Regions from separate parts of the Homo sapiens genome. Here region 2 is linked to region 1. The links come from fine-mapping of genetic effects on plasma protein levels. Region 1 holds a variant in brackets. A gene starts in the other region. All regions are shown on their forward strands. Region 1 overlaps SRGN (serglycin). Region 2 holds the start of ASPN (asporin).

The links. A credible set is the group of variants that fine-mapping cannot tell apart. PIP is the posterior inclusion probability: the model's chance that the variant is causal. Protein levels are from antibody-based Olink assays in UK Biobank. Linkage for the fine-mapping came from a reference panel and not from the study's own genotypes, which makes the PIPs less certain.
Region 2: it holds the start of ASPN, and the variant in region 1 is the best candidate, but not a certain one, in a credible set for the plasma level of the ASPN protein (UK Biobank, PIP 0.71).

Annotation. Positions count from the first base shown.
Region 1 is chr10:69,092,442-69,100,441 of GRCh38, forward strand. It overlaps SRGN (serglycin), which reads left to right. Exons shown (of 3, transcript NM_002727.4): 2 at 4,643-4,790. Among named protein-coding and RNA genes, the nearest start is that of SRGN, 8.3 kb to the left of the region's middle. The variant C/G (reference allele first, on the strand shown) is at 4,766.
Region 2 is chr9:92,479,036-92,487,035 of GRCh38, forward strand. ASPN (asporin) reads right to left here and starts at 3,471. Exons shown (of 8, transcript NM_017680.6): 1 at 3,258-3,471. The region is part of intron 5 of CENPP (centromere protein P); the gene reads left to right.

The DNA.
Region 1 (8,000 bases):
AATAGCTTTGTTGAGATAGTGTTCACATACCATACAGTTCACCCATTAAAAGTGTTCAATTCAGTGATTAGGCCAGGTGTGGTGGCTCATGCCTGTAATCCCAGCATTTTGGGAGGCCAAGGCAAGTGGATCACTTGAGGTCAAGAGTTTGAGACTAGCCTGGCCAACATGGTGAGAACTTGTCTCTACTAAAAATACAAAAATTAACTGGGCATGGTGGTGTGCACCTGTAATTCCAGCTACTTGGGAGGCTGAGGCAGGAGAATCACTTGAACCTGGGAGGTGGAGGTTGCAGTGAGCTGAGATTGCACCACTGCACTCCAGCCTGGATGACGGAGCAAGACTCTGTCTCCAAAAAAAAAAAAAAAAAAGTGTTCAATGTTTTTTAGTATATTCACAGAGTCATGCAACCATCACTATAATTGCTTCTAGAACATTTTCATCATCCCCCAAAAGAAAGCCTTCGTTACGAATTTTAATTAGCTGAGATTCTGAACTCTGGGGGAATTTTGTATTCTAGAAATATTTTTTACTAATATGCTACAGTTGTATTTGTCATGCTGGTGAAAAGATGTGGTCTTTCACCTGGATGCTTTCTCATTAAGCATTATTTTTCTGTTTAGCTTCCTGTGTGAGCAAACATTTTCTCAGCTTGATACTCAGTGCATCAGCGGCTTGCAGAAGAGACTGCCTAGGCCTGCTCTGTCCAGTACGGTAGCCACAAGTCACTTGTGGCTACTGAACACTTGAAATGTGGCAAGGCCAAATTGGGACAGGCTGTGAATGCAAAATATACAAGATTTGGAACCCTTAGTATGAAGAAAAGAATGCAAAATATCCCAGTAATAACTTTTACATTGATGATATGTTAAAGGACAATATTTGAATATGTTAGGTTAAATAAAATTAATTTCACCTGTTTCTTTTTACTTTTAAAAATATGGCCGCTGGAACATTTAAAACTCCCTATGTGGTTTGCTTTGTGTTTCTATTGGACAAAGTTGGTCTAGACAGTACAAGGTGTGAAGACACCGCCCTCTGCTGGAGAAGATGCTGGATTTTTATTTCACCTACAGGAAGAGACGTCTAAGTAGCAATTAGATGCTAAACTAATGCTGCCTCAGGAAAGAATCAAAAGAGAAAGAGTGAAACCAGGCCGGGCGCGGTGGCTCACGCCTATAATCTCAGCACTTTGGGAGGCCAAGGCGAGGGGATCACGAGGTCAGGAGATCGAGACCTTCCTGGCTAACCCCGTCTCTATTAAAACTACAAAAAATTAGCCGGGCATGGTGGCACGTGCCTGTAATTCCAGCTAGTCGGGAGGCTGAGGCAGGAGAATAGCTTAAACCCAGGTGGCGGAGGGTGCAGTGAGCTGAGATGTGCCACAGCACTCCAGCCTGGGCAACAGAGCCAGACTCTATCTCAAAATAAGGAAAAATAAAAAAGAAAAGAAAGAAAGTCCATAAATTGAGACTCCTAGAGATACTAAATGGTAGAATGGGAATTTGAATTTAAATTTATAAGATGTTCACTCTCGGAGATCATAGGTCATTGTTGTCCTCCTCCTTTTCATGACAGGAACTAGCAATGAAGAGCTCTGACTATGTGCTAGGTACTACTCTGAGAACCTAACATTTGTATCTCCTTATTAACTCTATTACTGCCCCATCCTACAGATGAGAAAATTGAGGCACAGGAAGTTTAAGTTGGCCAAGATCACACAGCCAGTAAGGGGCAGACATTGAAAGGTCATTTTGCCTGCCTTATCCCCAGCCTCCAGGCAGTGGCAGAGTTAGCTCATTTTGGACAAACAGCTCTCCCAGACCAGACATTGTAAGCTATACTCAGGAATCATAGGAAAGATTATGATAGAATAATATATAGTTACAAAGAAAAGAAAGAAAATCCAATGGGAGAATATTTACTGTTTTCTATATTAAAGTGTTTAATGTTTATGTTTTTAGAGGAATATTGTTTATTATAGCAATTTAGAAAACAAAATGAGAAAAAAAATCACCAAAGATTCTACCTCCAGTTATTTTTGTGTATTTCCTTCCATTTTTCCCCCCATGTCTGTTTATATAATTGAAACTATTATTCATGCAAAGAGGTATTCTGATTTTCTCAGTTATTTTTATTTATTTTTAATTTTGTAAATAAACTTTTTTCTTCTGAGACAGTCTCGCTGTGTCACCCAGGCTGAAGTGCAGCCGTGCAATCTTGGCTCACTGTGACCTCCCAGTCTCAAGCAATCTTCCTGCCTCAGCCTCCTAAGTAGCTGGGACTGCAGATGTGTGCTACCACATCCAGCTAATTTTTAAAATCTTTTTTCTCTTTTTTGGTAGAAATGGGAGTCTCTCTATGTTGCCCAGCCTGTATTGAACTCCTGGGCTCAAGTGATCCTCCCACCTCAGTCTCCCAAAGTGCTGGGATTTCAGGCATGAGCTACCACACCCAACCTAATTTTTATTTTTATTTTATTAAAAAAAAAAGTTTTTGCCTACCCGCCTCTCACCCTCTCACTCATTTTTAAGTATAGGTTTTTCTACAATGCCACATTGTCTTTTCCATAAAAAGTACTTTCGGCCGGGTGTGGTGGCTCACACCTGTAATCCCAGCACTTTGGGAGACTGAGGCGGGTGGATCACCTGAGGTCAGGAGTTCGAGACCAGCCTGGCCAACATGGTGAAACCCCATCCCTACTAAAAATACAAAAATTAGCTGGATATGATTGTGGGCACCTGTCATCCCAGCTACTCGGGAGGCTGAGGCAGGAGAATCGCTTGAACCTGGGAGGCAGAGGTTGCAGTGAGCCGAGATTGTGCCACTGCATCCCAGCCAGGGCAACAGAGCGAGACTTCATCTCAAAAAAAAAAAAAAAAAAGTACTTTTCTTCATTTGGTTAGTATTCTCTTATGAGTTGATGCCTTGTAATTTATCTGAATGTTTTCCATTATTTTGTGGTGAGCTTTAAAACTACCCTTCCTGACTTTCAAGAATCCTAGACATGCTCCTTCTTGCTAGGTAATTATTAGTTGCACTCATTAGAATAAAGTATATGCTTGGAGTGGGGAGGAGATGAACTTTTTGAAGGGCGGTGAAGTATTTCTCACCACCAGGCCTTTGTCTTTGCTAAACTGAGGAAGGAAGATTTTATTTCATTAGCTAACAAAGAACCTCCTATATAGGCCGGGCATGGTGGCTCACGCCTGTAATCCTCACATTTTCAGAGGCCAAGGTGGGTGGATTGCCTGAGCTCAGGAGTTTGAGACCAGCTTGGGCAACATGGCAAAACCCCATCTCTACTAAAAATACTAAAAATTAGCTGGGCGTGGTGGTGAGTGCCTGTAATCCCAGTTACTCCAGAGGGTGAGGCAGAAAAATTGCTTGAACCCGGGAGGTGGAGGTTGCCATGAGCCGAGATCGTGACAGTGCACTCCAGCCTGGGCGACACAGCAAGACTCTCTCTCAATAAAATAAAATAAAATAAATACATAAATAAATCTCCTATATAACCTCATAATATCAGATTTGGAGCCTTTTCCATAGAAATGAAATTCAGAAGAAGCTGAGACTCAGATATTCCAAGCTGCCTGGTGCTCTGTGAATAGAGGAGACTTGTTCTTGTGAAATCTGAGTGCAAAGACACAGGACAAATTGTTATCTACTTTTCATTCCTAAGGATACTGTATGGCCCTAAAACACAAGAACTAGAATTCTGTGATACCACGGGTACTCCACAGTGTGTTCCTTCCCCTTTCTGAACCTGATTTGACTCATCTCTATGAAAAGATGTGGGCTTTGGGGTCAGATGTGGGTTGGAATCCTAGCGCCTGTGTGGCTGCAATTTTCTTTTGTGTAAAATTGAGATAATAGTACAAAAGTAACAACAGTTAATATTATCAAGTGCTTACTGTGTGCCTGGCACTGTGTTAAATTCTCTAAGTGTATTTTCTCATTTAATTTTTGTGATAGGCTTATGACACTATTAGTATCTTCATATTACAGTGAGGGTTCAGAGAAGTTAAGGTTCCATAACTAGTCAGCAGACCTGGGACTTCACTCCAGGCAGCTGATTCCAAAGCCTATTCTAACTTTAAACTGCTACTTTTTGGAGTGTTGTAAGAAGGACAATTTATATAAAATGTTGGCACATAGTGGGTGCTGCTGTTATATGAATGGGCACAAAATCTGTCTACATTTTGCCTTTTACCAAATTTAGAATCTATTTAGTTAAAACCTTCTTAGGGCGGGTGGGGTGCAGTTGCTCATTCCTGTAATCTCAGCACACTGGGAGGCCAAGGCAGGAGGACTGCTTGAGCCCAGGTGTTTGAGACCAGCCTGGGCACATAGTGAGACCCCCATCTCTCCAAAAAACAAACAAACAAACAAAAACAAAACAAAACTAGCTGGGCGTTGTGGTGCCCCTGTATTCCCAGCTACTCAAGAGGCTGGGGTGGGAGAATGGCTTGAGCCCAGGAGTTCAAGGTTGCAGTGAGCTATGATCACAGTACTGCACTCCAGCTTGGGCAGCCGACTGAGACCCTGTCTCGAAAAAAAAATAAAAATAAAAACTTCTTAGGACAGAGTGATTAGAAGCTGTGTAGTAGATACTTAGTAACAATGTGGGTTCCTCGGGCAGGTTATCCTACGCGGAGAGCCAGGTACCAATGGGTGCGCTGCAATCCAGACAGTAATTCTGCAAACTGCCTTGAAGAAAAAGGACCAATGTTCGAACTACTTCCAGGTGAATCCAACAAGATCC[C/G]CCGTCTGAGGACTGACCTTTTTCCGTAAGTGGACTTTTCTCTAATTAATTAATTAATTACTTATTTATTTGAGACGGAGTTTCACTTTTCTTGCCCAGGCTGGAGTGCAATGGCGCAATCTTAGCTCACTGCAACCTCCGCCTCCTGGGTTCAAGCGATTCTCCTGCTTCAGCCTCTGGAGCAGCTGGGATTTCAGGCGCCTGCCACCATGCCCAGCTAATTTTTTTTTTTTTTTTTGAGACGGAGTCTCAGTCTGTCGCTCAGGCTGGAGTGCAGTGGCGCAATCTCGGCTCACTGCAAGCTCCACCTCCTGGGTTCACGCCATTCTCCCGCCTCAGCCTCCCGAGTAGCTGGGACTACAGGCACCCGCCACCACGCCCGGCTAATTTTTTTGTATTTTTAGTAGAGACGGGGTTTCACCTTATTAGCCAGGATGGTCTCGATCTCCTGACCTAGTGATCCGCCCGCCTTGACCTCCCAAAATGCTGGGATTACAGGCGTGAGCCACTGCGCCTGGCCTAATTTTTTGTATTATTAGTAGAGACGGGCTTTCATCATCTTGGCCAGGCTGGTCTCAAACTCCTGACCTCAGGTGATCCACCCACCTTGGCCTCCCAAAGTGTTGGGATTACAAGCATGAGCCACTGTACCCGGCCTTTTCTCTAATTTTAAAGTGTCTGTAATTTCACAACCTCTTGGCACAGATGTGGGAGTGTTTTTCTTCAAGCTGTCCAGAGTGTTTTGCTTCGAGCTCTTGCTTTGGTAGTTTGGCTCTTACTCTGCAGTACATGGTAAAAGTGTACTGTATATACTGGCATATGACATGTGCGAGTATACATGATTCACCTATGTTTTTGAAATTTTTTTTGTGGATGGTAGAGAGGAGCATTGAGGACTTTTCATCAACAGGTATTGAAAATGATTGAACATTGTTTTATTTGTGTAAACAGAACACACTATATATAAAAATCCAATAATTAACTGAATGGATAAGCAAAATGTGGTATAAGCATACAAAGGAATATTATTGGGTCATAAAAAGAATGAAGTACTGATACATGCTACAACATAGATAAACCTTGGAAACATTATGCAGAGTGAAGGAAGGCCAGACACCAAAAGCCACATATTGTATGATTCCATTTAGATGAAATGTCCAGAATAGGCAAATCCCTAGAGGCAGAAAGTAGATTAGTGGGTTACAGGGGCTGGGGAAAGGGAGGAATAAGGAGTGACTGCTAATGGGTATGAGGGTTTTTTTTGGAGGAGGTGATTAAAATGTTCTTCTGCCAGGTGTGGTGGCTCATGCCTGTAATCCCAGCACTTTGGGAGGCCGAGGCGGGAGGATTGTTTGAGCCCAGGAGTTTGAGGCCAGCCTGGGCAACATAGTGAGACCCTATCTCTATTTCAAATACATTTTTTATATTAAAAAAATGTTCTTCAAGTAGTTGGTAATTATTTTTAAAAATGGCCAGGTGCAGAGGCTCATGCCTGTAATCCCAGCACCTTGGGAGGCTGAGGTGGGAGGATCCCTTGAGCCCAGGAGGTTTGGGACCAGCCTGGGCCATACAGCAAGACCCTGTCTCTACAAAAAATACAAAAATTAGCTAGGCATAGTGATGTGCACCTGTGGTCCCAGCTACTCGGGAGGCTGAGGTAGGAGAATCTCTTGAGCCTATGTTGAGCCTGCAGTGAACCCTATTTATGCCATTGCACTCCAGCCTAGGCAACAGAGTAAGACTCTGTCTCAAAAAAAGAAAAAAAAAATTAGGGAAAGGAAGAATAATTAGCCAAGACTTGTAAAACAAAAATCAAATCTCTTCTTTTGATCACATAAAACTTGCTTTAAACTTGCAAAAAAGACCTGATATAAATTCATAAGTAACAAAAAATTGAATTATATTAGAAACCATTAATTCAATGAATACTAAAGCTATGTAGGATGTAGCAAAATATACATATTAAGAAAAGGATTATCATAAAAGTTTTAATCTCCAGGCTCAAACCTAGAAAATCACTCTCCTCAAAGCCAGGGTTAATCATCATGCTCCAAACCAGGTACATTTCACATCACTTTGGGATCCTGGCAACTTTCTCTTTTGTTTTTTTTTTTTTTTGAGACAGGGTCTCCTCTGTCACCCAGGATGGAGTGCAGTGGTGTGATCATAGCTCACTGCAGCCTCGAACTCCTCAAGTGATCTTCCTGCCTCAGCCTCCCAAGTAGCGGGACCACAGGCACACAGCACCATGCCCATCTAATTAAAAAAATTTTTTTTTGTAGAGACAGGGGTCTCTGTACATTTCCCAGGCTGGTCATGTACTCCTAAACTCAAGCAGTCCTCCCACCTCAGCCTCCCAAAGTGCCGGAATTACAGTCATGAGCCACCATTCCCAGCGCTGGTGACTTTCTCCATCACTGGTGACTTTCTCCATCACTGGTATTCACTGCATTAGTGATGACATCATTACAATCTTCAATATGCAACTTTGTAGTCCTACTCTTGCATTCTTACTTTAAAGCCTCAGCATTAAGTTTGAATGTAATATTACAGCATCCTTCATTACTTTAAATCATTGGTTTCAATAGTAATTCATTTAAATCTAAAATGTTAGGCTGCAGTGGCTCATGCCTGTAATCCCCCCAGTTTGGGAGACTGAGGTGGGAGAATCACTTGAGGCCAAGAATTTGAGACCAGCCTGGGCAACACGGCAAGACCCCATCTCTAAAAATTAGTGGCCCGGCGCTGTGCCTCACGCCTGTAATCCCAACACTTTGGGAGGCCGAGGCGGATAGCTTGAGGTCAGGAGTTCAAGATCAGCCTGGCCAACATGGCGGAAACCCATTTCTACTAAAAATACAAAAATTAGCTGGGCATGGTGGCACGCCTGTAATCCCAGCTATTGAGAGGCCGAGGCAGGCAGACTGGGAGGCCAAGGCAGGCAGATTGCTTTGAGACCTGCCTGGGTAACATGGAGAAATCCTGTCTCTACAGAAAAATACAAAAATTAGCCAAGCATGGAGAAACCTCGTCTCTATAGAAAGACACAAAAACTAGCCATGCATGCCTGTGGTCCAGCTACTCGAAAGGCTGAGGTGGGAGGATTGCTTGATCCTGAGAGGTCAAGGCTGAAGTGAGCCATGGTGTGGCACTGCACTCCAGCCAGGGTGACAGACTAAAACCTTGTCTCAAAATAAATAAACACATTTAAAATAAATAAATACAATTAAAACTA
Region 2 (8,000 bases), not on the chromosome of region 1:
GTGCCACCGTCAAGAGAGGCTTCCCCAGTACTGAGCTGAGGTTCGAGATGAGGAACTGGATCAGGTATGAGGAGCAGAACTGAGAGTTGAGAGGAGAAGGAGAAGGCACACAGGGCAGGGAAGGCAGGGAGCAGAACAGTAGTGGTCCTGCTTTTTTCCACATCCCTGCCTCAGGGCTGCTGACCAGTCCCCCAGTGGCATCAGGAGAAGCATCAGCCGGGGCCCCTTCCTTTGTCTCTCCTCTTTCTGAGACTGATAAGTTACAGGAGACCCTCCCTGCCTTTAATCAAAACTGCGGTAAAATTAAAATATGAAATGGAGACTTCTGCCTGCAAGTTTTAGGCAGTAGCATTATCTTTAGCTGTTGGGAAGCATTCCAGTTGCTGAGCAGTGGAGGCAGCCACTTTTATATAGTAGTTAGGCCCTTTCCTGGAGAATAAGAGATGAAGACCTTTGAAACAGGAGTTCCTCCTGGTGGTGAAGGTTCCAGAACATTCTGGAACAGGGAGCATATCCACCCTGCTTGAATAGCTCCAGGGAGAGGATACTACCTCAAGGCAGCATCTTCCACAGTTGTCCATCCATGGCTGTTAGGAAAGTCTTTATATGGAAACTCAAAAATGCCTTCTGGAAAATTCATTTCTCTCTGCTAGTTCTGTCTTCTGTTAGCCTTTTACAATTAATCTAATCTTTTGCATTTGTGTATCCTGGTTGCTTGCAAAGAAAAAAGTCAGGCCAACCTTGATACCATGAGGAATTCATTATTTACACTCTTTACCTGAGTCTCTTGCTGGGTCTCTTCCACTGCTTTGTTAATAAGTACAATCAAGTATAGGTCCTAAACCTCCCCCAGTTCAGTGTGCAACTGTTTACCAATAGGAAAATAATGGAATGTCTAGGAGAGAACCCTAGATAGCAGTATTTTTTTCTTATTATTCAGAAAGAATGTAGAGAATATTATATGTCATTTAAAATGATATGACTTTTGGCTGTTTTATTTTGAGTTTATTAATGAGGTACAACCTCTGTTTTATTAGTTTTGGCAGTATTCAGGTTACTCTATTTTTAAACCCTTTAAAAATATTAAATCTTCTTCTCAGGAATACTCAATATTTCCCTGATTTAGACCAGTTTTGCCAGTGTTTTCCACTCATGGAAAGCTTTGGATTTTGGTTTCAAGTCTCTCTTAATCAGAGTAGTGTTTGGAGTATTCTTCCAGTGCTACTGCTATTACTAATAAATCATAGTAGCCTAGAGCTAAGAGAGGTCTTTGAGACTTTCCCCCCATGGCCCTCTTTTACTGAGAAAAAGCAGAGGCAGTGAGCGTCCAGAACTGGCTGGAGGTGGTGGAGCTGAGGGCTGGCTTCCTCACTGCTTGTTGGTTGTGCTTTGCACTAGACTGCATGTCCTCCTAAATGGATTTTAATCTCATAGTTACTTCCAGACAGTAAACAGACTTTCCTCTGGAAAAGCCTAGGTAAGGAGGTTTGGCCAAGTTCTTAAAAGAGTTCATAACATATGGACTGGAAATAAAGCTTAAGAAGCACATAAGCTTTCTTGTTTCCATTTAACTGGTCTACAAACTTAGAAAGTTTATCTAAGTGAAATGGTATTTCCTCTCAGACACTATTATTAGGTAAATAAGTCACTGTGCTTTTAAATCCCATGTTTAAAGGCCCGCTTGGCAACTTTTCCCCTGGGTTTAAACATGCCTATCAGTTCACAGGTACCAGTAGCAGATTTCAGCATATAAATGTGATATAACATACTCCATATATTTCACCGAAGGAATCCAAACCAAATTCAGATGTAATCAAGGCATAGTCTTGTAAGCTAACAAATGAGTTAAAAGTCCAACATGCATTTGGAAACTTATTCACAGTACCATTTGTTCATGGATACTGATAAAGATAGCACTTTCCTTAAAAAGTAGTTAATTTTACCTTAGAAGTATAACTAGCATTCTGACAAAGCATTCTAGCTGTTCTTCCTTTTATACTAATTTTGCCCTTCATTAATTTCTCCACATGTCTAGCAATCAAGCTACTGTCTTAAAAAACAAAATCTACTGCCTCTCCATTTTTATGATGTTTCCCACAGTGCCTCAAGACTTGTGCTTGTAAAGTTAATTGTTTTTGTCTCAAACCTCAGATCAGTTATCAGAATATTTGTTTTTAATTGAGTAGTTAGTTGTAACAGAAGACTATATATCCTCTGTTCTTTCCACTACTACACTATACTCCTTAATGCCAAAAAACAAACTAAAAACATCAGGATCCTTTTATGTGTGTGGGCTTGTGCTCGATTTTTCTTTCTTTTTTCATTTCTTTCTTTTAACAGCTTGATTCTTGGATTTAAACAACTTTATTTTTAGGGAAATACAACCCCCTCAGGTTCTTTATGACTCAGTCCCTACACCATGTGGCCACTGTTTCCTGGGTGCCACACCTCTGAATAGATTAACATGAAAGAATGCTGTGCGCTATTTAGATTACTAGGGAGTAGAATATTGAATACATTGCTTAAATTTTTTAATCTAAAATTTAATCAGAAATTTACTTTGGGAGTAGACAAAGGAAATCTTTGAAAGTGTTAAATTCTGACTGTATACATGCTGTGAAAATTTCCTAATCTTTCATATTGAATATAGTGCTAGCTAAACTATTGCTGATAAGTATTCTTTCTTGGAATTGAATAGATTTCCATTTGAACTTTTCAGTGCCATTTCATTATAATAAGGAAGACATTTATCAAGGAAAAAAATGAATATTCAAATGTATAAGTAAAATTGACATTTCAGTAATTCACACATTTTAAATACACATTAGAAAATATTTTAAATATTGAAAAATATATTTACTGTTTCATTTAATATAGCTGTGATATCCCCAAACTTCATGATCATTATTATAGCAATGTTATTTTCCTAGATAAACATACAAGATGTTTATTTAGATGACTTTTAAAATCAATCATGTTAACATTTATGGTAAGGCATAATGACAGGTTTTCACTTAGCTGAAAAAAAAAGTCACATAATTATATTTAAAATACATTCATTATAGGTAAGACATAAAACTAGAATAATTTTAGGTACAAATTTAGGTTTGTATTTAAATGCTGATTTTTAAGAAATTATAGAGATAAACTTTGGACTTTATCCTATTATTTATAAGCATTTATTAATAACATTAATGTCTCCTTAGTATTGACTGTAAAGTATACATCGATACTTGTAAGATAGACATGAAACATACCTGTCAGAAGAGAGTAGTCCTCCTAAAAGTAGAAGTTATCCACCATGTACTACTTATCTATAATGTAAATGTTCTCAGACACTGTGTAAGAAGAAAAGATGAGGAGGTATTACATTTAAAAGAAAAAAAACACCCTTCAACACAGTCCTGGTGTGGCTGCACCCTGGGTGATACTGGAATAAACTGCTCCCACAGATTAGTCCATGTTAGTACTGAGGAGCAAGATTAAAACTTGTTACTGCTCATGTGTTTTCCATCACTGTTTGTATCGTAGCCAAGACTTCTAGCTAAACTCTAGACGTCTACTGGAAGATTCTGAAGAAGAAAAAAAAAGAAAGTTTAATAATGCATGGCAACTGGCCATTGAAAGTGCAGTCGGAGTCATTCAAGAAATACCTAGTTTTAAAAATATTAGATTCTTAAGTGAATGAATATTTGTAAATTACAATTTCAAAAATTACTCAACCTGTATAGACTAATAAAATATTTATCAATCTGAATAAAGGATACCAACATTACTGAAGTATATACCCAAACTTCAGATGTACCTGAGAAAGAACCATACTTTTTTTTTCTTCTAATGACTGTAGCTATTGCATTATGCATACTTCTCCAGACTTTTTTTTTTTTTTAAGCTTTTAGCACTGCTATAGCATGTCAGGGAAACTATGGATGAGGCTCCATGAACTGCTCCCTGGACTCAACATATGTGATATAACACAGACACACATGCATGTCCAAGTAACACCCTCTTAGGATGCATACAACTTTCCCTTTTCAAGAGAATATTAGCTATGGCCTCACTGACATTTAGGGAGACTTAGAGCAGGGAAGATGCTATTTCCTGAAAATAAATCATTATTTGTACCCCCTTTCCACTCATCCCCAAGAGACTGCCCAATTCTACATCAACTAAGACCTTCAAGAGAGGACAGTTTTCTTTTTTTTTTTTTTGAGACGGAGTCTCACTCTGTCACCCAGGCTGGAGTGCGGTGGCGCAATCTTGGCTTACTGCAAGCTCTGCCTCCCAGGTTCACGCCATTCTCCTGCCTCAGCCTCCCGAGTAGCTGGGACTGCAGGCGCCCGCCACCACGCCTGGCTAATTTTTTGGTTTTTTAATAGAGACAGTGTTTCATTGTGTTAGCCAGGATGGTCTCGATCTCCTGACCTCGTGATCTGCCCGCCTCGGCCTCCCAAAGTGCTGGGATTACAGGCATGAGCCACCATGGCCGGCCTGAGAGGACAGTTTTCTAACCCTAGTGGCAAGGACTTACTGTTGTAAGTGACCCCAATGGTTCTTCCCAACTGTTGTATAGATTTGGAGGCCAGCAAAGAGCTTTTCCAGTGGGTTAGAAGACCTGTTCTCTACTGTCATCAAGAGTCTGACCATCGTTTGTTCCCTCTCTCCAGAGAAATGGCACACATTGTGTTAAGCAAGGCAGCTACAGTCCTAAAGAATACATGTGCCTCAGATGTGCATAGCAGCTGGCTATGTGTTCATCCTCCCCTCACTTAAATAAAGTACTCCTCCTTGGACCTCTAGGCTGACAGTTCCAGGCAGCTCGGTAGTCCCATTAGTGGCCCTCTGTAACTCAGGCCCCATCCTAGCCCTGCAGCACCTTAGGGAATGACGGCCCTCCTGTTTGGTTTAGAATGCTCATATTCTCATTTATTCAAGTATATTTCAGTTGCAAATGTATCTGTTAACTGGATGAATTGGGAACATAATGAAAATATGAACTGGATTTTTAAAATCTTTGTATCCAGAGCATCTAGTGTTTGCCTAAATTCCTTCAGAACACAGTCATAAACAGGAAGCCCTTGGGTCAAATTCAGTTTGTCCTGCACAATGTTTTGTTTCTGAACTGTTTATTGAAGTGTATGTTACCAAAAAAAAACATATCATAATGGTACAACTCAATTAATTTTTACAAAATGACCCCAATCAAGAAATCCCAGCCTCACACTCCATTCTCATACATCCAGAATCCCTCCTCTTACTCCTCAAGTCACAGCCTGAGTTCAGCACCATAGGTTATTTCCTGAACTTTATATAAATGGAATCATACTGTGCATTCTCTTTTGCATCTGGCTTTTTTCATTCAGTGACATGCTTTTGAGATCCATTCGTGTCATTGTGATACACAGTAGTTCATTCTTGTCACTGTATAGTATTCTCATACATGAATAAGCCACAAATTGTTTATATATTCAACTAGATTAATTACCTTTTGGAGAGGTACTATGAACGTTCCTCAGTCTGTCATTTGGGGGTCATGTGTATGTATTTTTGTTAGGTGAAATTGCTGTATTTAAAAATAAGATTTCAACTTCTCTTTAAAAATTAGGCTTTCCCAGTCTGTGATTTCTGGTTTTGCATGGCAACTGTTGTCTCTGGGACTTGTGTTTTTCTCTTCTATACTCACAGGATGTTGTCCACGTCACCCACCCAAGGCACTCCTCAGTCGAGTTGCCTGCATGGCCTTTCTGGGTGCAGTTTTGCCTCCCATATCTAGAGAGTTGAGAGGCAGTTCCTGTAAGATTGTGTTTCTAAAGATATGTTACAGCTACTTTTCCTTCTCCCCACTGTGAGACTTAAGCTAGTCTTCCTCTGATATTTTGCTTCGATCTTTGGTCAGAGGGCCTAGGGAAAGAAATAGGCCCTGGAATAAGATGCTGGGGTTAGGGGTAGTATATTTGGCTTATTCACTCTGTTCTGCAGATAATGTGGTAAAGGTGCAGGCCTCAGGCACAACCCTCCACCATCTTGGGGCTGTGACATGGAAAGCTTTGCCTCACATTTGCCAGAGATGGTGCAGCAGGCACGAACGTGCCATCTGGGAAGAAACTGGAGTTTATCTCCACCCTTTTCCAGGTTATCATTCCAAATGAAACAGTGTACCTCTTCTTCCCTCAAGTATTGTGAAGAGAAAAATCTTCCATTTTTGTTTCCTAAAGGGGTCCTATGGAGGGGACCTAGTTCTTTTCTCCATGCTTTTTAAATTGTTTTATTTTTGCCTCATTGAGCCTTAGTCTAAATATTGAAGAACTAGTTGCATTATAACAGTATATTTAGGAATCACAAGTAATTTACATGTTGCAAACACAAAGATAAATTACAAAATTGAAAAAGTAATATTCTCAGTACTGACAGTTTATGAATAAAAATATTGATTGCCATAAAAGGAACTTTAATGCAAATTTATTTTCCTTTGGCCTTATATATGCTAACCATCGTGAAAATAAAAATAAATTGCCTAATCTAAGCTCTCGTATGATTTCTCACACCCTTTCTAGAACTTCTCCTGGTCTAGACATGGACAACAGTGGTCAAAGTCCAAACACAAATAAGAACAGGGGAGGACCTTGGAAACTGTCTCATGCAAATAAAAGATTGATTGATTGACAGAGTCTCACTCTGTCACCCATGCTGGAGTGCAGTGGTACAATCATACCTCAAACTCCTGGGCTAAAGCAATCCTCCCATCTCGGCCCCCCAAAGTGCTGAGATTACAGGTGGGAACCACCTGCACACAGCCCAAATGAAAAGGTTTGATAGGTGAGGCAGGAGCTATAGGAGCAGCATGTGTCAGGAGTATATTGTGGGGCACACACACACCTGCCAAAAAAGTAGGCAGTTTGAATTTTCTGATGTTCTTTTGCCAGTCTGTGGTGTCCTTCACATTCTAAATGAATTGGAATAGATTGTACAATGTTCTTTTATAGTAGTAGCTACAAGAAAGGCCGTCCACCAATCCATTCATTCAACAAATAGTGTAAGTGCTATGGAGAGAAGCAGGATAGGGGTGGGGGTGTCAAGGGTGCCCTCCCTGTCAGGTGACAGTCACAAGACCTGAGGGCTGTGAGGGAGTTAGCCGTGCCATGCAAACACCCACTTTAAGAATGTTCTAGGCCACTGAATTCTAGGATGTAAATATGCATAACATAGGGTTTTTTGTATAGTAGATGCTTAAAAAAGCTTCTGTGAAGGGATAAGTGATTAAGATTTCATGAGTTTTAATGTTCAAGTGTCCCTCATGGTGGACTAGGCACTTCGGTTTCTAATGAACTTATTTTATACTGTAGGTTGTGACCCAGGGGCAGTATTCAACATGCAGATTGTTTGGAGCATATAGTATTTTTAAAAACCAGGACATTTGATATCGAAGTCCAAATTTACAATGTATTTGGAAAAATATGAGCTGGAAAAACTGACCCTGATGTCCTATGTAGCAGCAATTTGCTGAGCACGTAGGCCCTCCATGGTTCTCTGCTGCCCTGACCTCCTCTTACCCTCTCCTCACAGCTCTTCCTGTTGCAGGGACTGGCTTCTGCTGTGTCATGTGGCTGAGCTCACTCTGTCATCCTACTTGAAGTTTCTAGTTCTGAAAAATGAATTATAATAAATTGTCACTAAATGTTCATTCCGTTGAATTTATGAAAAATGAAGGACTTATACAATTTTGTTTATTATATTTTGCATGTGTCAATTTTTTTTTTTTTTTTTGAGACGGAGTCTTGCTCTGTCACCCAGGCTGGAGGGCAGTGGCACAATCTCAGCTCACTGCAACCTCCACCTCCTGGGTTTAAGCAATTCTCCTGCCTCAGCCTCCTGAGTAGCTGGGATTACAGGTGCAGGCCACCACGCCTGGCTAATTTTTGTATTTTTAGCAGAGATGGGGTTTTGCCATGTTGGCCAGGCTGGTCTGGAGCTCCTGACCTCAGGTGATCTGCTCGCCTCGG